Linked DNA regions of Homo sapiens: regions 1, 2 and 4 are each linked to region 3. The links come from fine-mapping of genetic effects on gene expression. A gene starts in region 3. Each other region holds a variant in brackets. All regions are shown on one strand. Distances are from middle to middle.

Region 1 (5,000 bases), 75 kb after region 3:
CCACTGACACCTGGGCACAGGGCCTGGCTTCCTGCTCTCGTGCTCTTGGAAATGAATGGGTGCCCTTCATTTGTTTTTCTTCCCACTAGAAATCTCCCTGCCTCCCATCCTCTGGGCTCTGCTGGCTGCCAGCTGCCAGGGTGAGACCCGTGTTCCACTGCACCCTGGGGAGTGCCTCCAGGGGACACACTGAGTGCCGGAGCCAGGAGCAAGGAACGGTTCCCAGTATGTGGGGGCGGGGGTGGGGATCGCGCAGTGCCGCCAGCCTTGCCTGAGGGTTCCTCTGTGAGATGGAGCTCCCTGGACCAGCCTTTTTGCCCTCCCACCTCCTCTCTGGCCCACTCGGTGTCCACCTGCCTTCAGCTCCAGGCTGCTGTGTGGGTCCCTTTCCCAGAAATGCAGTTCAGGCCATTGTTGCTGGGGTGGTGGTGTTGCTGGGGTGTTGATGTTTAGCGTGCCTGAGCTCCCTTCATCACTAGGATGACCTTGAGCAAGTCACTTCCCTCTGAGCTCCCTGTTCCCAACCTGTGACACACAGGTGACAGGTGGTGTGCACTCAGAAACTCCTTCCCTAGGATGTGTGACATTCTTGTCCTGGGGCCTTTGCTAGCTGTGACACACCGGCGCCCGACCTCTCTGGCTGCCTCCCTAATGCCAGTTGTGTCTTCAGATGAGTCTTTGGGGGGCTGCTTCTCATCCCAGGTGCTGGACTTGGACTGTCCACCACTGACACCTGGGCACAGGGCCTGGCTTTCTGCTCTTGTGCTCTTGGAAATGAAAGGGTGCCCCTCGTTTGTTTTTCTTCCCACTAGAAATCTCCCTGTCTCCCATCCTGTAGGCTCTGCTGGCCACCAGCTGCCCTGACCTGGGGCAGCTGAAGAACTGAGATAGACCTAAGTTCTGGGTGGGTGCTTGGAGGCCCCACGGGCGTGGCTGGTGAGATTGCCGCTTCAGGGCCAAAGTGGGTGCCGGGCTTCCTGAGGTTCGAGAGCAGATGAGAACTCTTGAGTGGCAATGAGGGCTGTGTGGTGGCCTTCTCTGCTTGGCAGCCTCTGCCCAGCCTGCAGCTGCCTTGCTCCTCAGAGAAGCGCTGAGCTTTAGGCCACAGAAAAGAGCTGACCATCTTCTAGAAGGGACAGCTGCTCAGGCACAGGCGCCTCTCTGGAAGAGGCAGTCAGGTAGAGGCAAGGGGAGGGGCCCTGACCTTCAAGCAGGAAGAGAGGTGAGCTTGTGAGACAGCTTTCTGGGGTGCAGGTAGAGAGTAGCAGCAAGTCAAGCATGGGTCAGAAAAGGCAGAGTTGGGCTGAGCATGGGGCCCAGAGTCTTTGCTTCCCACTCCTCGGTGCCGTCTGTGGTTCTCTGTATGGAATTTTCTGGCCTTGGGATTTTGTTGACACCTGGATAAGTCTAGAACATGTGTTCCGGTGTCTGGGACATGCCCTTACTCCTCTTCAGCTAGGGCTCTGTGCACCCCAGCACCGTGAATGCACAGGACTTTGGTGGGAGAAATCTCTGTACTTGTTCAACTCAGCATTTAGCAAATGAAGTCACATCAGTCCCCGTTTCTGACCTTGCTAACCTTTGCGAGAATCACCGCGAGCCATTTTGCTCCATTAGGTAGAGTGATGAGGCCCGGCAGGCCGAGGCTGGGGCTCCTGCACTCTGTCCCTCCTCTCCCAGGCAGAGGTGTCTTGACCACAAAGCAGTGGGAACAGTCCATTCCATCGGTTGATGTCCCACTGGGCCAGTGGCTTTGGATAGGGACCTCTGACCCAGCTGTGCTGGAAGTACCCTGTTGTGGTCACGCTCTGTGCCTTAGCCCCCCACCCCCTGGTCTCCCAGCACACGTGGTTCAGGAACGGCCTGCACCCAGCATCCCTTGCAGCACTGTCAGGCACAGCCCATGGAACAGGCAGGACAGAAAGAGCATTTCGCTCCAGGAGCTTGGTCCACGTGGTGCTGAAAGGGCAGTGCCACCCTGCCCTCTGCTGCCTGGTGGGGTGGTGAGGAGGGCAGCATTCTGTTTGTGGGCTCTGGGCCTGGTCCCCAATTTAAGGAGCTTAGAAAGCAGCTGTCCTATCCCAGTACTCACAGCACTGTGGTGGAAGTGCTTGGGGGGTGGTGTGAGCCGTGGCCCGAGACAGGCGTTCATGGCCAGAGTGCCCCAGGAGAAGCACTGAGTTGGTCTACAGAAATGGATGGTCCAGGGGCCTGGCTCCTAGGCAGACTGTGAGGGGATGCTTGGCATGCAGGGGGTTGACTAGGGTGTGGGAAATGTAGCAGGGCCTTCAGGGTTCCCCCAGTGTGACAAGGCATCCCTCTTTGCTGAGAGTCCCTCTAGGGGAGGCCAGACGCCCAG[G/A]GCTGGCAGGCAGCTGTTCTCCCCATCAAAGCAGCCATCTGTGCTCCACCCCAGGAAGGTGTGGGTGTTTTACATATGCTTATCCCTGATGCCTGGGTGGTGTGGTTTCATCCCTAGAGTTTACGGATGAAGACAGTGGTGTCCCTGGTGCAGACACTGGGGTGATTGATCTTATTTGTGTCGTGGCCAGCAAGGCCTGGGGAGCAGAGCAACAGCCTTGCTTTGCATACACACAGGGCCTCAGAGGACTCAGGTGCACACCTGCATGGCAGAACCAGGCTCTGGGCCCAGGTGTCTGACACTGAGTAGCTCGCCTCTCCCAGGGGCGCTGGTGTGGGCCGATGCAAGTGCCACCATGGGTGTGTGTGTGGCTCCCTGGGCCACCTCACTCCAATTAAGCAGGTCCAGGTGGGACAGCCTGGGACCAGCCCTGCAGCAGCATGTGTTAACCACAACAGATGGCTGTAGCCACCAGGCTTGTCCTTGGTGCAGTCAGCCTGGGGGCTGCGGGGGCTTGTGGAAGCATGTGGGAAGACGGTCCCACTGGTCAGCAGAGCAGGGTCCTCACCGACCCACAGAGGAGCATGTCACAGGACAGGCAGGCGTGTCAGGGAAGGCCAGGCTAGTGCCAGCCAAGGGCATTGCCTCCCAGACTGCCCTTTTCCTCACACTCCCACGACACAGCCCTCAAAGCCTGTGCCCCTGTGGGTCCCTGGCCAAGGAGCAAGGGCTGCCCTGCCTGGGCCCCCCCCGCCAGCCCCTTGGTCACCTCATGCTGTGTGCCAGGCTGGGGGAGTGTGCCTGTGTGTATGTCCAGGTGGCATTTGGATGAAGACACAGGTGTGTGGTGAGGCTGTGCGGGAGGATGGGCCTATGCGTGCGGTGGGCAGGTGGTGTGGAGGCAGGCGGGCGGGCGTGTGGCAGCGCGCCGGCTGAGCCCCTCCACTTCCAGGTCAGCCAGAGCAGCCTCCCCATGCTGTCCTCGCCGTCACCGGGCCAGCAGGTGCAGACCCCGCAGTCGATGCCCCCTCCCCCCCAGCCGTCCCCGCAGCCCGGCCAGCCCAGCTCACAGCCCAACTCCAACGTCAGGTAGGCCTGGCCTGGGGTGCCCCTCCCCACCTGGCCCTCGAGGCTGGCCCTGCCTGGACCCCGGCTCACATGTTTCTCTCACTTGGCTGCAGCTCTGGCCCTGCCCCATCTCCCAGTAGCTTCCTGCCCAGCCCCTCACCGCAGCCCTCCCAGAGCCCAGTGACGGCGCGGACCCCACAGAACTTCAGTGTCCCCTCACCTGGACCTTTAAACACACCTGGTAAGTTGGGCCTGAGGTGCTAAGGTCACTCCTCACCTTTATGAGGCCTCAGCTCATACTGGGTGTGCGAGCTCTGGGGCCCTCAGAGCTCAAGTTCCCCACCCGAGGGTCGAGGGCTGTGGCCTCACCCGCCTGTGTCCTGCAGTGAACCCCAGCTCTGTCATGAGCCCAGCTGGCTCCAGCCAGGCTGAGGAGCAGCAGTACCTGGACAAGCTGAAGCAGCTGTCGAAGTACATCGAGCCCCTGCGCCGCATGATCAACAAGATCGACAAGAACGAAGGTAGGCTGCAGCCAGGGCAGGGGCCTGCACCCTGGGGACACCACCAGGCTTGTGTCTTAGTGTGTACCCTCTTCTGTCCCAGACAGAAAAAAGGACCTGAGTAAGATGAAGAGCCTTCTGGACATTCTGACAGACCCCTCGAAGCGGTGAGCTTTGCCCACAGCCCACGGAGGGTCCACAAGGGCACAGATAGCCCAGCCATGGATGGGCACTTGGTGATGATGTGGGTTTAACAAAGGCACCAGGCAGCTCTTTGGACCCTGGCCAGAGGCCTCCAAGGCTCCACTCTGGTGTGTGCTGGGGCTTCAAGCCCAGGCTTCATCTTGGCCCATGCCCAGCCTTTGCCCTATTCCTGGCTGCTGCTGTGGCCCTCATGCTGGGCCATCACAGCCAGACCTCATCCAGTCAGCAGCCAGGGGCCCAGCTTGCAGTGGCCTGACCATCAGCTGGCCCAGATGGGCCTGAGCCTGACCTGGAGTTCTGCCCCTGACTTGCTGGTGACCATGGGCAGGCGACTGCATCTCAGTTACCCCATTTGTAGCCCACGTGTGTTGTCATGAAAATGAAACAAGGTGGCGCTGGTGAGAAGCAGGTGGAAGGCAGGGCTGCTGGCCACAGGCTGCTGTGAGGATCAGAGCTCGGGCAGTACCTCCAAACTGCATGGGCATTGGCATATACCTCCCTTTCACCTCAACTCAGGCTATCCCCCAACCCCTGTCTAGAAGGGTCTCTCTGTTCTGCTTGTCTGGATAGAATGCCAGTCACTATTGGGTGGTCCTCCAGGTCTTCATGGGTTGATCCTTTGTTAGGGTTATAGGGATGAGTGGGGCAGGGACTGGCCTACATGACAATGAGGCATTCACAGCCTGATCAGGGGCCTGGCCACTGTCCCTTCTCTTGACCCATCACCTCACTCTGCCAACCAGGGACAAGCAGCTCCTGGGGTTGAGGGCTGCCTGCCTTCAACTCTGGGTCTGGGAACAGCTGGTCAACTGGTAGGAGCTCCTGCAGAGGTTTCTGATGGCTGAGGCCCAGTGGCAGTAGTTGGGATC
Region 2 (5,000 bases), 29 kb after region 3:
TCAGGAGACAGAGACTGAGGAGTAGCCATTCGGGTCTGGCTGCTCAGGAAGGCATGCTGGGGATGGCAGCAGAGCCCAGCTCAGGGAGATCAGAAGGGGGCTTTGGGAGCAGCCAGTGCTGTTCTGAAGGTGGGCCTGGGTCCTGCCTGCAGCCTCCCGCAGCGGGTGTGTTAGGTCTAAGGGAGGAAGGAAGGGGACTTGACCTCAGCAGGAGTGTGAAATGGGTACCCTCCTGGAGTCAATGTCCAGGCAGGGGATGCCTCTGAAAAGCGCCAGGCCAGCTGGAGAGGAAAGGGCAGGCATCTGCAGGGAAGTGTGGGGGATTAGCTGCAGAGTTCCTGGGTTCTTTTTCGCTTTGTCTCTATTTTGTGACACTTGATCTTCAAACTAGAAACAGGAGCAAAGACATTTTCAAAAATACAGTTGTCAGAACTGCAAAACCACACAGGGTCTGTTACTGGCCACCAAACCTGCTGGGCCTCCCTGGGTGGATGCTGTGGGAGAGATGTGGGAGTGACATGGCACAGTGCTGCTGTTCTGAGCGGTAGCCTTGCTGGAGGAGCGCCTTGCCGGAGGAGCACCTTGCTCCTTGGCCCCACTCTGACCCTCCGAAGCTCATGTGGAACTGGACATTTACCCCAACTCGGTTTCCTGGTGTTGGCCTGTCAAGACTTGCCTGTTTCTGGCCTCCAGCTTGGTCCATGCTCCTCAGGCTCTGAGTAGCTGACGGTGCCCACAGTGTCCATGTCATCTGTGACATTACCCAGGACAGGACAGGGCCCGTCTGCCAGTACATCCCCTGGTGTATGGTGCCACCTTGCCTTCAGCTCACCAAGCATATTTCTTCAACCTGGTCATCCCACCACCTCAGAGCTATTGCACTAAGCTGTGTTTCTAGATCTTGTCTCTCTGACTGTGCCAGGTGTCTCTGCTGCACCAAGACAGTGTCTGTCTGGGGCCTGCCAGTCTGCTGACACTCTCAAAAACGGCCAGTAGCAGCTCAAAAGGACTGCTTTTGTATCAAAGCCTGGCTTTGCTCTCTGATCGCTGCTGGTGGGCACAGAGCCCATCTGTGTAACTGGTTGTCACTCCCCAGACTCTTCTGCACCCTTCTTCCTCTCTGACTCCTGGCCACATCTGCCACCCACAGCCTCCCCACTCCTTACACAGCCAGCCTCCAGGCCGTCCTGCTTGGCCTGCAAATGCTCCCCTGCTGTTTCTACTGCTCTTCCCTGAGTCTCCCTATTGGTCCCAGTGCTTTGGGAGGCCAAGGTGGAGGATCACTTAAGGCCAGGAGTTTGAGACCAGCCTGGGCAACAAAGCAAGACCCTGTCTCTACAAAAAAAGTAAAAAATAAAAAAATTAGCCAGGCGTGGTGGCGCATGCCTGTAGTCCCAGCTATTTGGGAGGCTGAGGTGAGAGGATACTTGAGCCCAGGAGTTTGAAGCTGCAGTGAGCTGTGTTTGCCCCACTGCGCTGCACCTGTGAGAGAGTGAGACATTGTCTCAAAAAACAAAAGAAGAAAAAGAAAAAAGGAAGGTGGGAAGAACAAGTATGCCTTTGAAGGGCATACCTGCCTTGAGGGGCACAGATGAGGCAACCTTCAGAAAACAGGCCTGTGCAGCCACTTCTATCAGAAATGCTCACTGACTTCTTGGGGCCTAGCAGCTATCGTCTCAGCCTCTGGGTGTGGAGACCCTGCCCCATGCTAACCTGAGAGCATGAGTACAGGGTCCTCCCAGCCCACCCATGCCTCGCTTCCCCAGGACTCTGACCCAGTGCCGCGCGTGAGTTGGTTGTCATTATCCTCCTGGATTGTTAACTCTCTCATCTTTTGTGGCCCTGGTGACCTTTCTTACTTGTCTGTTCCACACCTGGATGCCTTGTGAGCAGAAACCCCTTGCTGCCTCCTCGCCTCCCTTCAGGCTTCAGGAAGCAGACAGGGAGGTAGGAACTCCAAGAGTGCAGGAGTCTCATTCTGTCGCCCAGGCTGGAGTGCAGTAGTGCCATCTTGGCTCACTGCAACCTCTGCCTCCAGGGTTCAAGCGATTCTCCTGCCTCAGCCTCCCGAGTAGCTGGGACCACAGGTGCCTGCCACCACACCCGACTAATTTTTGTATTTTTAGTGGAGACAGGGTTTCACCACGTTAGCCAGGCTGGTCTCAAACTCCTGACCTCAGGTGATCCACCTGCCTCGGCCTCCCAAAGTGCTGGGATTACAGACCTGAGCCATCGTGCCCAGCCCAAGAGTGCTTTTTGAATCTAGCAGGGTGGTAGGTCAATGTCATTTTGTTTTTCTTTTTACATTAAGACAGATGTATGCACCTCTCAGCATTAAACCTCCTTTCTGTGATGTCTTTAAGAATCACAGTCATATTGCTGTAGCCCCGTCTGTACATTCCTTCAGTTTCCTGAGGTTGGCTGGTTGCTGTTTGGAGTGGTCAGAATGCTTTCTAGCACGAGCTGGACTGGGCCTATTCAATTCACTCAGAGGCAAGGCCCCAGAGCCCTGACATGTTTGCTTGTTTCTTTTTTCTTTTGCTTTCTTTCTTTTTTTTTTTTTTGAGACGGAGTCTCGCACTGTTGCCCAGGCTGAAGTGCAGTGGCGCAATCTCCGCTCACTGCCAGCTCCGCCTCCCGGGTTCATGCCATTCTCCTGCCTCAGCCTCCCGAGTAGCTGGGACTACAGGCGCCTGCCACCATGCCCAGCTAATTTTTTGTATTTT[T/A]AGTAGAGACAGGGTTTCACTGTGTTAGCCAGGATGGTCGTGCTCGCCTGACCTCGTGATCTGCCCGCCTTGGCCTCCCAAAGTGCTGGGACTACAGGCGTGAGCCACCGTGCTCAGCCTGCTTCTTTCTTTCTTTTTTTTTTTTTTTTTTTTTTTGAGATGGAGTTTCGCTCTGTCACCCAGGCTGGAGTGCAGTGGCGCAATCTCGGCTCACTGCAACCTCCACCTCCCGGTTCAAGCGATTCTCCTGCCTCAGCCTCCTTTGTAGCTGAGATTACAGGCATGCGCAACCACACCCTGCTAATTTTGTATTTTTAGTAGAGACAGGGTTTCACCATGTTGGTCAGGTTGGTCTTGAACTCCTGACCTCAGATGATCCACCCGCCTCGGCCTCCCAAAGTGTTGGGATTACAGGCGTGTGGCACTGCACCTGGCCACTTGTTTCTTTATCAGCAAGCCCAGGGTGGGAGGCCAGGCAAGGAAGAGACCCATCCCACTGGCAAGAAGGCAGGCAGTGAGCACACCAGAGCAGTCCACCCCTGGGAGCCACAGGCCAGGCCTTTCTAACAGATTCACACTTGTTTTTGTCTTTCTGTGTGTGAGTGTGGGAGGTGGGGGTGGGGGTGGGTGGGGCAGCATGTGCTGCATTCGAGGGGTCTCCACCTTAACTGATGTACATGGCTCTTTATCCCCGTGGAGCAGCAGTGTGATGAAAAACTCTTCATAGGATTCTATCTCTTAGTACAAAATTGTTGGTAAATGGGTTTTTAAAGATATTTTTCACATTTATGTGGTCTTTCTCTTCTTGTCTCTAGCTAGAAGTGAAGTTGGAGCTTGTCTCTTTGATCCCACATATAGGACCTGCATTGTCCCACATAGGGACAGACCCTTGCCTTGGGAGGGACTGAGAGATGACTTCATGTGGCCCCTTCATTTTATAGGAGTAATCGAGTCTAGAACCAGGGTGCTACCATCTGGCAGAGTTCATGGGGAACGCAGGCCACTCAGAGAGCAGGAAATAGAGGCCAGCTGGCCACCCAGTAGTCTAATGCGTACTTCCTTGATCCTGAACTGGTTGTGAGCCATCCCTAGGGGCAACCCCTCCCCCGCCCCGTCCCTTCATGCCAGGGCTCTCTCTTTGCTTCATGGCGACCACCTTTCCTGTCCCTTTTTTCTGATCACCCTGCTCAGTGGCCTGTCATTGCTCTCTGTTGAGTGCCCCTTCCCATATGCCTCTCCTGGACCTCAGCCAGGCTGGTGTGCTGGCGATAGCACCTTGTCACCAGGGGCAGCTGCTATGCAGGGCCTGTTGGCCAGGGCCCTGCAGCGGTGGAGTCACTGGTGTGTGCAAACGTCTCTTCTCCTTTTGTGTTTCAGCGAGGATGCCATGAGGAAAGCTGGTGTGGCACACAGTAAATCCAGCAAGGATATGGAGAGCCATGTTTTCCTGAAGGCCAAGACCCGGGTAAGGCCCTAGTAAGTGGAGCCACTCTGGCAGAGAGACTTGGAGAGGAGAGCATCACAGACTCTGGAACCCCTCTGTTGGGTGTCCTAGGGTGTAGGGGTGGGGTGGTTGCTCATCGATTGATCACAGGCACAGTTGGTTTTGCCTGCAGCAGTCTGGGTCCTCCTGTGTGTCCATGGTACAGGGAGGGCACTTGGGTTGCAGGCCCAGCCTCTGGCCCCAGACCTCACTGCCGTCACCTTCCATCTGTGGTCAGCCCCTGTGAATCCTACAGGAAGCTTGCTCAGGCCCCTAGCTGGTCCTGTGGAAGGGATCAATGCCGTGAGCAAGAACCTGGTTTGTCCTCAGCCCCTCCTAGGGGTCCTTACCTAAGCCCTACAGGGCCCTGAGGCATGGGCCCAGAAGCATTCCTGTCCCCTTTTGCTAAGTGAAGAAGGTGATGCTTATCTAGAACTCGCCACAGGTGGAGTGGAGAAGAAGGATTTCCACTATATGTGGGCTTTCTCCCTGGGTGGGGCACCACACTGAGGGCTTTATGTGACCACCTCCTTTAATCTGTGTGTGCTCCCTGGGACAGAACCGTTTTACTAGAAATGAACAAAACACATATTCACTTGTGTGCACGTGTGTGTGCAAGGCAGAGCTGCAAGAGCACAGGGACTGAGGTGGGGTAGAGTGGGCTCTGTACTATGGACACGTGTGACTGAAGTGGGATAGAGTGGGCTCTGTATTATGGATACGTGTCACTGAGGTGGGGTAGAGTGGGCTCTGTACTACGGATACGTTTGATAAGCTTTTTCTTTTTCTTT
Region 3 (6,241 bases):
CCCTCCCTACCTCCACATACATAAGTGATTACAGGCTCCAGGCCAAACACACAGAGGAGTTACATCTGGCTGGTGCTAGGATGGAAGGTGGGGCAGGTCACCACCTCCCAGGGACTGAGTGCCAAAGCAAGGAGGAAGATTGGAGGTGAGGCTGTATGGAGACAGCCACAGGCTCACAGAGCTTGTGCTGAGCTCTCTAGGGGGAAGCTTGATCTGCCTGGGAAGCTTCCAGCTCCTACCTCCTGCAGAGCCCAGAATGGTGTCCAGGAAATATGTGGCCATTGAGTGGAACCAGCCTTGGCATGGTAGCCTGCAGGAACCCGCAGGCTAGAGACATGGCCACATGAGCAGTGAGGATCTCCCCCGAGATGAGGATCCCCAGAACATAGTGTGGGATGCAGGTCTGGCCTCTGCATACCCTCGGCTTCCTCCATCACTTATTCTCAGACATCTAAACCACTAACATCCAGACTGGGGATCCCAGGAGGGTCTACAGTGTCAAGAGAGGGCAAGTCCACTTCAGGATCAACCTTCCTGTGGCCCCTTACTTTCCTTGGTCCACCTTTCCAGGTCACCCATCCAGACTGTCACCAGGGATCACTGCCCTGGGCACCAACCCAATGCGGGGACAAGTAGAAAAAGAGCTCTGGGGAAAATACCAAAGGGAATAGTCACTCAATTTTACTGTGATGATAAACTCCTGGCAAAGTTCCAGGCCTCTCTCTGTCTGTGTCTGTGAATTATGTGTCTGTGTCTCCATCAACCATAGTGCAGAAGGGGGAGGGTTGTCCTAAGTATCCTATTAACATGTTTGTTTGTTTGTTTGTTTGAGACAGAGTTTCGCTCTTGTTGCCCAGGCTGCAGTGCAATGGCATAATCTCAGCTCACTGCAACCTCCACCTCCTGGGTTCAAGTGATTCTCGTGCCTCAGCCTCCTGAGTAGCTGGGATTACAGGCACACACCACCATGCCTGGCTACTTTTGTATTTTTAGTAGAGACGGGGTTTCACTATGTTGGCCAAGCTGGTCTCGAACTCCTGACCTCAGGTGATCCACCTGCCTCAGCTTCCCAAAGTGCTGGGATTATAGGCGTGAGCCACCATGCCCAGCCAGAACACAGGACTTTCAAAACTTAAACCTGGGGCTGGGCACGGTGGCTCACACCTGTAATCCCAGCACTTTGGGAGGCCGAGGCAGGCGGATCACCTGTCAGGAGTTCAAGACCAGCCTGGGCAACATGGTGAAACCCCATCTTTACTAAAAATAAAATAAAATAAAATACAAAAATGAGTCGGGCGTGGTGGCGCACTGTAGTCCCAGCTACTGGGGAGGCTGAGGCACGAGAATCACTTGAACCCCGGATGGCGGGGACTGCAGTAAGCGATCACGCCACTGCACTCAAGCCTGGCAGACCTAGCGAGACTCTGTCTCAAAAAAAAAGAAAACAAGGCTGGGCGTGGTGGCTCACGCCTGTAATCCCAACACTTTGGGAGGCCAAGGCGGGTGGATCGCCAGGTCAGGAGATTGAGAACATCCTGGCCAACATGGTGAAACCCTGTCTCCACCAAAAATACAAAAATTAGCCAGATGTGGTGCCAGGTGCTTGTAGTCCCAGCTACTCAGGAGGCTGAGGCAGGAGAATCACTTGAACCTGAGAGGCGGAGGATGCAGTGAGCTGAGATTGCGCCACTGCACTCCAGCTTGGGCGACAGAGTGAGACTCTGTCTCAAAAAAAAAAAAAAAAAAAAAAAAAAAAAAACCAAGGGCCGGGCGCGGTGGCTCACGCCTGTAATCCCAGCAATTTGGGAGGCCGAGGCAGGCGGATCATGAGGTCAGGAGATCGAGACCATCCTGGCTAACACGGTGAAACCCTGTCTCTACTAAAAATACAAAAAAATTAGCTGGGCGTGGTGGCGGGCGCCTGTAGTCCCAGCTACTTGGGAGGCTGAGGCAGGAGAATGGCGTGAACCCGGGAGGCGGAGCTTGCAGTGAGCCAAGATTGTGCCACTGCACTCCAGCCTGGGCAACAGAGCAAGACTCCATCTCAAAAAACAAACAAACAAACAACAACAACAAAATAAAACAAGGAAAAAAACACTAAAACCTTGGATGTCCTGGGCAACCCCGGTCAAGATGATCACTCTAGATAGAGTTTTTAAAAATTAGTTTTCAGCCTGGCCAAGATGGTGAAACCCTGTCTCTACTAAGGATACAAAAAATTAGCTGGGCTTCGTAGCAGGCACCTGTAATCCCAGCTACTTGGGAGGCTGAGGCAGGAGAATCACTTGAACCCGGGAGGCAGAGGTTGCAGTGAGCCGAGATGTCACCACAGCACTCCAGTCTGGGCAACAGGGCGAGACTCCATCTCAAAAAAAAAAAATTAGTTTTGCCACCGGGCACGGTGGCTCATGCCTGTAATCCCAGCACTTTGGGAGGCCGAGGTAGGTGGATCACCTGAGGTCAGGAGTTCGAGACCAGCCTGGCCAACGTGGTGAAACCCTGTCTCTACTAAAAATACAAAAATTAGCCAGGCATGGTGGGGTACGCTTGTAATCCCAGCTACTGGGGAAGCTGAGGTGGGAGAATTGCGTGAACCCGGGAGACAGAGGTTGCAGTGAGCCGAGATGGCACCACTGCACTCCAGCCTGGCCAACAAGGGCTAAATTCTATCCCCCCCCCCTCAAAAAAAACAATAACGATTTTGGGAGTATTAGAGCAGAAAACGTTTGAAAACATGAACAGCTCTCACATCAACACAAGACATGAAACTCTGTTGGCAAGAGAGGCCTCTTTGGGGAGAGTGCTCACTCCTCTCCCACCCACTCTCTACCACCTTCAACCTCCTGTCTGGGGCACAGTAACAAGGGGTGTAAGGGGTGTACAGTGCCTAGCAGGGGCCTGGCACTTAGGCTTCAGTAGGTGCCAGTCCACAGTCTCCTGAGGCCCATGTTGGTTGGTGTCCACCTGGTGCTTATTGACCACTTGGGCTCCAGATTTTCCTCACGTCACCTCCCTCCCCAGGGTAGCAGATAAAGGCCCCATAGTTCCAAGGAGGCAGAACTTTTACATTCCTAAAAGCATTCTCAGGCCCCCATAACCCCTCATCCCACCTTCAGCTCGCTCACCTTCACCTATCAAATTCGTTTGACATCTGGCCTCCAGCAACTAGCTAGGCTGAGTTCTCCATGAAGGGGACGTGGCTGCTGGTCAAAAGGGAAAGCCCATGTCTAAAAATTAATTAACGTGGTTTAGGGGCCTCACATTCCCAACCCCCAAATACAGCCATTGTGAGATGTGAGATTCAAAAAATCGAAGAGTGAAGCGGTGATGAGAGTCCATCTGGTCGCTCTTCGGATGCGGCGCTAGCAGGCAGTTGCATGAAAGCAGATCCCAGATCACGTTGCACTGGCACACAGTAGGTACCCACACATATTTGATAAATAAACACTCTCTCCCTAGCATTACTATAGATAGCTGGCAGCTTGGCCTGGCATCCCGGAGGGGTCTGGATCTCAGGGACTAGATAAGGCCAGCACACTGAAGAGTTGCAGAAAATGCAGGCGGTCAGGCGCAGGTCTGCTGCGGGAGCACCTGCCGTGTCCGACAGCTGCACTGGAAGAGGGGCGTGTGTCTCCCAGCCGGGCGGAACCGAGACCGCTTCGTCCCCGGCGGGGAACTTCATTTCCCACAAGCCTGTGCGCGAGACTCCATTTCCCACAAGCCCTCCTTCACTTCCGGCTCGGCCGAGGCACTGCGGACGGCTTCCGGGTTTGGGCCTGGCTCTGTGACTGAGGCGGCGGCGGTGGCGGCCAAGCGGGATACGGGCGGCGGGAGCTGGGGAACAGGCATGGACGTTTCCGGGCAAGAGACCGACTGGCGGAGCACCGCCTTCCGGCAGAAGCTGGTCAGTCAAATGTGAGTAGTGGTCGGGGCAGGGGGCTGGATTGTGGGACCTTCCTCCTTAGCGTGGCGGGCGAGGCCAGGGCCGGACCCGTGAGAAACCTACGGCGCCGGGAGACAGAAGGCGCCGGGGACTTGCGTGGGTCCCAGGGCTCGGGCCCCCCCGTCTGTCCCCTCCGTTCCCGACATGGACTGCTCGTTTGCTTTCCTGGGGCCGAGCTCTGCAAACCAACGAGCCCTGGCTTATGAATCATCGTCTTGAGCTTTCTCATTCGTCATTTGTGTGCTTTGGGTGCAGACTTTCCCCCGCTTTTTGAACCACACTGAATAGGGAAAGGGAGAGAAGCAGCCGGCTGTAGTGGGTTTAGCAGGGCTGGGTGCTTCATGGTTTCTCTTCCAGAAAAGCGCATCAACGGTGAAAGAAAGTGATGGGAGGAGGGTGGATGTAAGATGAGATTGGGAAGGTAGTTGTTTGGGGTGTGGGCGGTGGGACGGAGGATCTGAGGGTGACCCCCCGAAGGAATGTGGACTTTGCCGAAGGATGGCAGGAAGCCGCTGTCAGGAAGCGATCGTCGTTTCTGGAGGAGAGCGTGAAGAGCTGGGGTCAGTGGCCCCGCTCAGAGGAACTCTAGCCCCTCACCACCGACTGCTTGTTTCTGTTAGCAGTTTTTTTCATGCGCGTCCGTGTGAAGAGACCACCAAACAGGCTTTGTGTGAGCAATAAAGCTGTTTATTTCACCTGGGTGCAGGTGGGCTGAGTCCGAAAAGAGAGTCAGCGAAGGGAGATAGGGGTGGGGTCGTTTTATAGGATTTGGGAAGGTAATGGAAAATTAGTCAATTGTTCTCTGGTGGGCAGGGATGGATCTCACAAAGTACATTCTCAAGGGTGGGGAGAATTACAAAGAACCTTCTTAAGGGTGGGGGAGATTACAAAGTACATTGATCAGTTAGGGTGGGGCAGGAACAAATCACAATGGTGGAATGTCATCAGTTACGGCTGTTTTTACTTCTTTTGTGGATCTTCAGTTACTTCAGGCCATCTGGATGTATACGTGCAAGTCACAGGGGATGCGATGGCCTGGCCTGGGCTCAGAGGCCTGACAGTTTTTAACTGAGCTTATTGGCGTGTTGTGCTCGCCACAGATTTGCCTGAGACACAGCCCCTTTCCTGAGGGATGGTAAAGGAACCGTCACAGCGCAGTCTTGTCAGTCTGTAATGTGTATACTGCAGGGGTTTCTTGCGAAGCGGCGGTTAACTTGAGCAGACCAGGGGCAGTCTAGTGAGTAGGTGACGAATAAATTGAGTCCTAGAAAGACAAGTAGGAGTGTGAATAGCCACCATTCCAAGCTGAGGAGTTAGGAAACATGAGCATTTACTGCGTGGAGGGAGGATCTTGTAGGCTGAGAGTTCTGGGGCTCGAGGAGTAAGAGAGCCCAGGAGATGATGGAATGAGGGTGAGCAGGTACTAGCACTTTAGTGGGGGTGTTGTGCCAAGGAATTGAGCCTGTGTTTGGCATGTGGCATTCTTTGGAGTAGTGAAATGCCAGTGTTGGGAATATGCCTAGAGTCCCTGTCCCTGGAGATGGATGCAGGGCAGAGAAGAGAGACCAGTTAAGCTATTAAGAGAGTTTGAACATTTGGAGGGAGTAGGGAACCTGTCCTTTTTCATCCTTATATTCTCACTGCTAGCTCACTGCCTGCCACATTGCTCCGTAAAATGATTGTGGCATGACCTAGTCGGGCGGGAGATTATAAAGGCCTGCATTAGACAGTGGTAGAAACTGAAAGAGGAAGACAGATTCCAGAGGAGGGGGAACGTAGACAATTCTTGATGACTAACTGGATGGAGGGGGGTGGGGTGTGGGGTGAAGCATTGTGGAAGGAAGGAAGCCGGGCTGAATGCTGGGAAACCTTTCAGTACAGTGGAAAGAGTAGGGACTGTAGAGTTAGTAGCTATGGGCTTTGGGAAGAATAGCCTTGGGATATTTCTGGGGATATTGCACAATCAGTGAACAGTGTTTTACTGATAAAATATAGTTATCTGTAGGTGAAAACTTGAGAGATATCCCACTTCAGGGTTCCTGCAAGAAAAGTCCCCAGGGCAAGGGTTCTTCTCTGGGAAAGCCCAGAATTAAGAACTGGAAGGGTGAGTTGTCATCAAAGAAAATGGGGGTAGGGGAAGTGTTAAGAGGGCTGGGAGGGTGATTGAAGAGTTTATGGGTGTTGAGTGACTGGATACTTCATAACTCAGCTTTATTTTGCTTCCGGGAGAATTGAGTTCTTTATTTTTTTCGATATTGCTGTTTGTGTGTTTTTCTGTTGCCGCTCTAACAAATTACC
Region 4 (5,000 bases), 51 kb after region 3:
TCTCTGGGCGGGATGGGTAGCCTTGGTGCCATGGGACAGCCAATGTCTCTCTCAGGGCAGCCGCCTCCTGGGACCTCGGGGATGGCCCCTCACAGCATGGCTGTCGTGTCTACGGCAACTCCACAGAGTGAGTACCACACTTCTTGGAGGATTTGCCGCTTTCCTTGCAAACGACAACACATTTTATTCCTGTGCTTATGATGGTATCAAGAAAAGCATGGAGAAGCTCCAAATCGCTCTGGTTTTTTTGTTTTTTAAATCTTTGTTGTATGTGGAGAGAAAAGGCTTCCAATTTTCGTTGAGCTCCCAGAAGGGTTAAGTGATGCTGGGCCCTCCTCCTCCTCCTAGCCCTGGGCAGGAGGGTGGGGATGGCCTGAGACTCCATCCAAAGGTTTGTGTTTTGTGGCTGAAATAGATACAGTGTGTTTCAGAGGGTTCTCAGCTACAAGGCAGGGCTGAGTGCCAGCAACCACAACTCCACTGTCTGCCCGAGCTCTGGGCACCATCTCTTCTAGTGCTGCCCTTGCCCCTTGGTCACCATGGGTGTGGCTTGCAGCCATATTATCTTCTGGCTTCCTTTCTGTGAAGGAGACTCTGTGTCCTCTCCACACGGCTGCTGTGGTGGGAAACTGGGCTGTGATCAGGTGTTATAGGTGAACCAAAGCTGCTCTAAAGGGGAGGCAAAGAACCTCCCTCTTCTTTCCAGGACCTGTCTTTTGAGACGGGGTCTCGCTCTGTGGGCCACATTGGAGTGCAGTGGCACAATCACGGCTCACTGCAGCCTGGACATCCTGGGCTCAGGTGATCCTCACACCACAGCCTCCAAAGTAGCTGGGACTATAGGCTCACAGCACCGCGCCCGGCTAATATTTTGTATTTTTTGTAGAGATGGGACTTCACCATGTTGCCCAGGCTTATCTTGAACTCCTGGGCTCAAGCGATCTGCTCACCTCGGCCTCCCAAAGTGTTGGGATTACAGGCGTGAGCCAACGCGCCTGCCCTTAGGACCTATCTTGATGTATCCTTGAGTCCCATCAACATTTCTTAGAGTGTGCTGTGCCCACTGCAAAGTGCTTTAGTGTTTTTTTCCCCTTTCATGTAACTTTTTATTTTTAAAATAGGAGTCACAGGAAGTTGTGGAATAGCATAGAGAGTTCCCACATGCCCTTTACCCAGCTCTCCCCAATAATAGTATCTTACATAGAACATTGTCAAAACCAAGAAATTAATGTTGAGGCAGTGTAATCACCTCAGTTAGAGACTTAGCTTGGACTTCATCAGTTTTTTTTTTTTTTTTGAGACAGAGTTTCACTCTTGTTGCCCAGGCTGGAGTGCAGTGGTGTGATCTCAGCTCACTGCAACTTCTGCCTTCCGAGTTCAAGCAGTTCTCTTGCCTCAGCCTCCGACTACCTGGGACTACAGGCGCCTGCCACCATGCCCAGCTAATTTTATATTTTTAGTGGAGATGGGGTTTCACCATGTTGGCCAGGCTGGTCTCAAACTCCTGACCTCAAGTGATCTTCTCTCCTGAGCCTCCCAAAGTGCTGGGATTACAGACGTGAGCCATCACGCCCAGCCGACTTCATCAGTTTTTTTACACTCATTCTTGGGCTACATATATGGGTATGTGTAGGTCTGTGAGATTTTACCACGTGTCAAATCAAGTAGCCATCACCACAATTGGCATGCGGAGCCGTTCCATTACCACCAACCAACTCTCTTGTGTTACCTCTCAGAGATCGCGCCCTCCCTCCAGCCTTAAGCAGTGACAATTGCTGATCTGTTGTGTGTCTCTGTAGTTCTGTCCCTTTGTGAATGTTGTATAAATGGAATCATACCATATGTGACTTTTTGAGATTGGCTTTTTAAATTCAATCTGATACCCTTGAGACCCAGCCAGGTTTTATCAGTAATTCATTCCTTTTCATCACTAAGTAGTGTTCCATGGAACGGATTTTCCACAGTTTGCTTATTCATTCACCCATGAAGGACATTTGGGTTGTTTCCTGCTTTTGCTTACTATTATGCAAACAAAGCTGCTGTGGATATCTGTGTACAGGCTTCAGTGCTTCAATATATTTTTGTCACACATCCCTCATGATAACCCTATGAAGAGGGCAGCATCGCCCCCTCTGCTTTGTCAGTGTAGCAGCTGCTAAGGAGAACTGGAGTCACACCCCAGGCCAAGAGCTGGGATCGAAGCTGCTGCCTGACCCCATCCTCACACTCCTACCCTATCCTGTGTCAGGTTTCCTCTTCTTTGGGGCCATAGGCATCCTCATTTCTACCCACTCCTGCTCTGGAATCTTCCTCCATCCCAAGCCACCTTCCCTTCTCATACCTTAATTCTCCTCTTACTTCCTGTTGTCTAACTCTCAGCACGTGCTGGTTTCCTCATCCTAGAACAATCTGCCTGGTTCTTCGTCCCAAGCTCTCATTACCTCACT[A/C]TTTTTAGCACATCAGATAAGTACACCAGCTGGGTTTAGGGAGGACCCACAGAAGTGCCGGCTCAAGTTCCTTGTCACGTTCTACTCTTGTGTACTTGGTGCATTTTTTTTTTAATCATGAGCTTATACTTGATAATAAATTGTTTTTAAATGTATGAGTTTAGAATGCTCACATGAGTTGCCTTGTCATCCCACTTCAGAGACTTTGTCTTAAACCAGTTCTTTGTCAGAAGTTCAGTGGTGAAGCTTGATATCCTGCCCACGCCCTCCCCAGTCTGGCCTTGGCCCCCACATCCTGTTTTTAGCTTCCAAGGGGACTGGTCTTCTGTGTGGCACTAGTTGAAAGTTACAGTGGGGGCTGGGCACGGTGGCTCACGCCTGTAATCCCAGCACTTTGGGAGGCTGAGGCGGGCGGATCACGAGGTCAGGAGATCGAGACCATCCTGGCTAACACGGTGAGACCCCGTCTCTACTAAAAATACAAAAAATTAGCCGGGCGTAGTGGTGGGTGCCTGTAGTCCCAGCTACTCGGGAGACTAAGGCAGGAGAATGGCATGAACCTGGGAGGCGGAGCTTGCAGGGGGCGAGATCGTGCCACTGCACTCCAGCCTGGGCAACAGAGCGAGACTCTGTCTCAAAAGAAAAAAGAAAAAGTTACAGTGGATTCTCTACTTCAGGATCTTGTTACCACCTTTGTCAGAGGCCAACTCTCCCTGCCCTTCACCACTTGCCTCCCTGGTCTCCCTGAAACTAGTAGTGTTGTCTGATGGGCATTTGATACCCCTTCCTGACACCTTTCCCAAAGACTACTGCATGATTAAGGCCCTTTCAGATCTTCATCTAGTGCCACCAAGAGGACAGAGCCTGGGTCAGAGGTTTTGCCAGGGACTCTCAAAGGGTAGGCCAGGGGACATTGTGATAGTTTTCAGGTGACCCAGGTTAGTCGGAAAAGGCTGAAACTGCTGGTTGTTCCTATGGCTGGGGCTGCAGTACAGAGTTGGAAGCAAAGCTTTTCACTCTGCGCATTTTTGTTTCTCATGAGTTTTATATGACGTGCATGTAAAGCCGACTTTAAAAATAATTTCTACTGCCAGTTGTGTGATGGACTGGGGTGCTGAGGACATGTTCTCCTCCTGGATAACTAGGTTCTGGTTAGGATGCACTTTGGAATGCTGGCCTGCAGCAGTTGGGGAGGCTTTGTCCTCCTGAGCCTCAGCTGCTGCAAGGTGGGGGAAGAAAGCTTGGGATTCCTGTAGTCAGCCAGGATTTGTGCTGGGTCCTGTGTCACCCCCCATACCCCCCAGAAGCAGGTGCAGATTGGAGCAGGTGCGGATTGGAGGAACATGTCCCCAGTGTAAGACCTGTGACAGTTGCACATTAAGGTCAAGCAATCAGCATACAAAGATCACCAGCCTTGAAGGGAAGGAGAGACACCATGAAGGTGAACAGAAAAAATAGACACATGTAGGCATGCCCAGTGACCACACACACAGGAACTGTTAGTTATGGGCCATGGGGTATATAAAGAAATAAAGTGGAGAGCCGGGCACAGTGGCTCACGACTACACTCCTGGCTACTCGGGAGGCTAAGGCAGGGGGATTGCTTGAGGCCAGGAGTTTGAGGCTATGGTGAACTATCATTGCACCACTGCACTCCAGCCTGGGGGATAGAACGAGACACCATCTCTGAAAAAATAGAAAACAAAAAGGAAAAGAAAGAGCAGAAATTCAAATGAAAAAGCATCATCAGGAGCAATGAAGCAGATTTGAAACGGAACCAAATGAAAGCTGTAGAAATGAGCAATATAATTATTGAACGAAGAAAGTGGATGAATGAACAGCGCATTAGATACAGCTGAAGAAAGAATTTGTGTAATAGAAGCTACATTTGAAGAAATTATCTAGAATGTAGCACAGAGAAGAGCACATGGAAAATGTGAAAGCAAGGGTAAGAAATGAGGATAAGATCAGAAATTCTAATTGGCATCCAAGCAAAGCCCCGGAAGGATCAAATGGAGAGAATGGAAGAAAACAATATGTGAGGGGATAACTACTGAGAAAAGCCCATCTGGCCCCAACCAAGTTAGCCATCTCATCTGCTGTGAGACTGCAGAGCACCAAAGGCCAGAGGAATGTCTTAGAAATAGGCAGTTCCTGCAAAGGAGCAATGAGTACACTCAGCAGTAGAGTCAGAAAGGTAATAGAATATTGTTAAAGCATTGAGAATAGAGCTGCCAGTCACATTTGTATGCCAGCAAGACTCAAGGATGTGGAAAGCAAGCCATTTTTAGATAAACCTAGCCTTAGAGACCATCACTAAAAGATTTTCTAAAGGATATATCTTTTTTTATCCTTTTTCCAATAAGCCTTTTGCACTCTTAGATATATTCTTTTGTTTATCCTTTCCTCTTCCCTCTCAGGTGATACAAGGTAAAATGGGAAAAGAAACGTTGAGCATAGGTGATAGTAAATGTGTATAAATCTAAAGCAGTGATTCTCACCCAGGGTGACATTCCACCACAGGGGATATTTGACAATGTCTGGAGACATTTT

Direction of the effects. Alleles are on the strand shown, and positions count from the first base shown. SD is a standard deviation of normalised expression in the study named.
With allele G in place of A in region 1, the expression in tibial nerve of the gene that starts at base 3,779 in region 3 is higher (moderate effect, 0.57 SD a copy in GTEx).
With allele A in place of T in region 2, the expression in putamen of the gene that starts at base 3,779 in region 3 is lower (small effect, 0.35 SD a copy in GTEx).
With allele A in place of C in region 4, the expression in skeletal muscle of the gene that starts at base 3,779 in region 3 is higher (small effect, 0.33 SD a copy in GTEx).

Evidence for each region. PIP is the estimated chance that this variant, and not a neighbour inherited with it, causes the effect.
Region 1: its variant is the best candidate, but not a certain one, in a credible set for the expression of MED15 in tibial nerve (GTEx, PIP 0.64).
Region 2: its variant is the best candidate, but not a certain one, in a credible set for the expression of MED15 in putamen (GTEx, PIP 0.87).
Region 4: its variant is the best candidate, but not a certain one, in a credible set for the expression of MED15 in skeletal muscle (GTEx, PIP 0.57).

What each region holds. Positions count from the first base shown.
Region 1 is chr22:20,579,300-20,584,299 of GRCh38, forward strand. MED15 (mediator complex subunit 15) reads left to right here. Exons shown (of 18, transcript NM_001003891.3): 10 at 3,312-3,448; 11 at 3,541-3,668; 12 at 3,814-3,948; 13 at 4,031-4,094. Among named protein-coding and RNA genes, the nearest start is that of MED15, 74 kb to the left of the region's middle. The variant G/A (reference allele first, on the strand shown) is at 2,360.
Region 2 is chr22:20,533,014-20,538,013 of GRCh38, forward strand. It overlaps MED15 (mediator complex subunit 15), which reads left to right. Exons shown (of 18, transcript NM_001003891.3): 2 at 4,104-4,191. Among named protein-coding and RNA genes, the nearest start is that of MED15, 28 kb to the left of the region's middle. RefSeq lists an enhancer at 4,543-4,712. The variant T/A (reference allele first, on the strand shown) is at 2,727.
Region 3 is chr22:20,503,832-20,510,072 of GRCh38, forward strand. MED15 (mediator complex subunit 15) reads left to right here and starts at 3,779. Exons shown (of 18, transcript NM_001003891.3): 1 at 3,779-3,915. The coding sequence starts at 3,848. RefSeq lists enhancers at 1,383-1,882, 3,762-3,871.
Region 4 is chr22:20,555,022-20,560,021 of GRCh38, forward strand. It overlaps MED15 (mediator complex subunit 15), which reads left to right. Exons shown (of 18, transcript NM_001003891.3): 5 at 1-127. Among named protein-coding and RNA genes, the nearest start is that of MED15, 50 kb to the left of the region's middle. The variant A/C (reference allele first, on the strand shown) is at 2,448.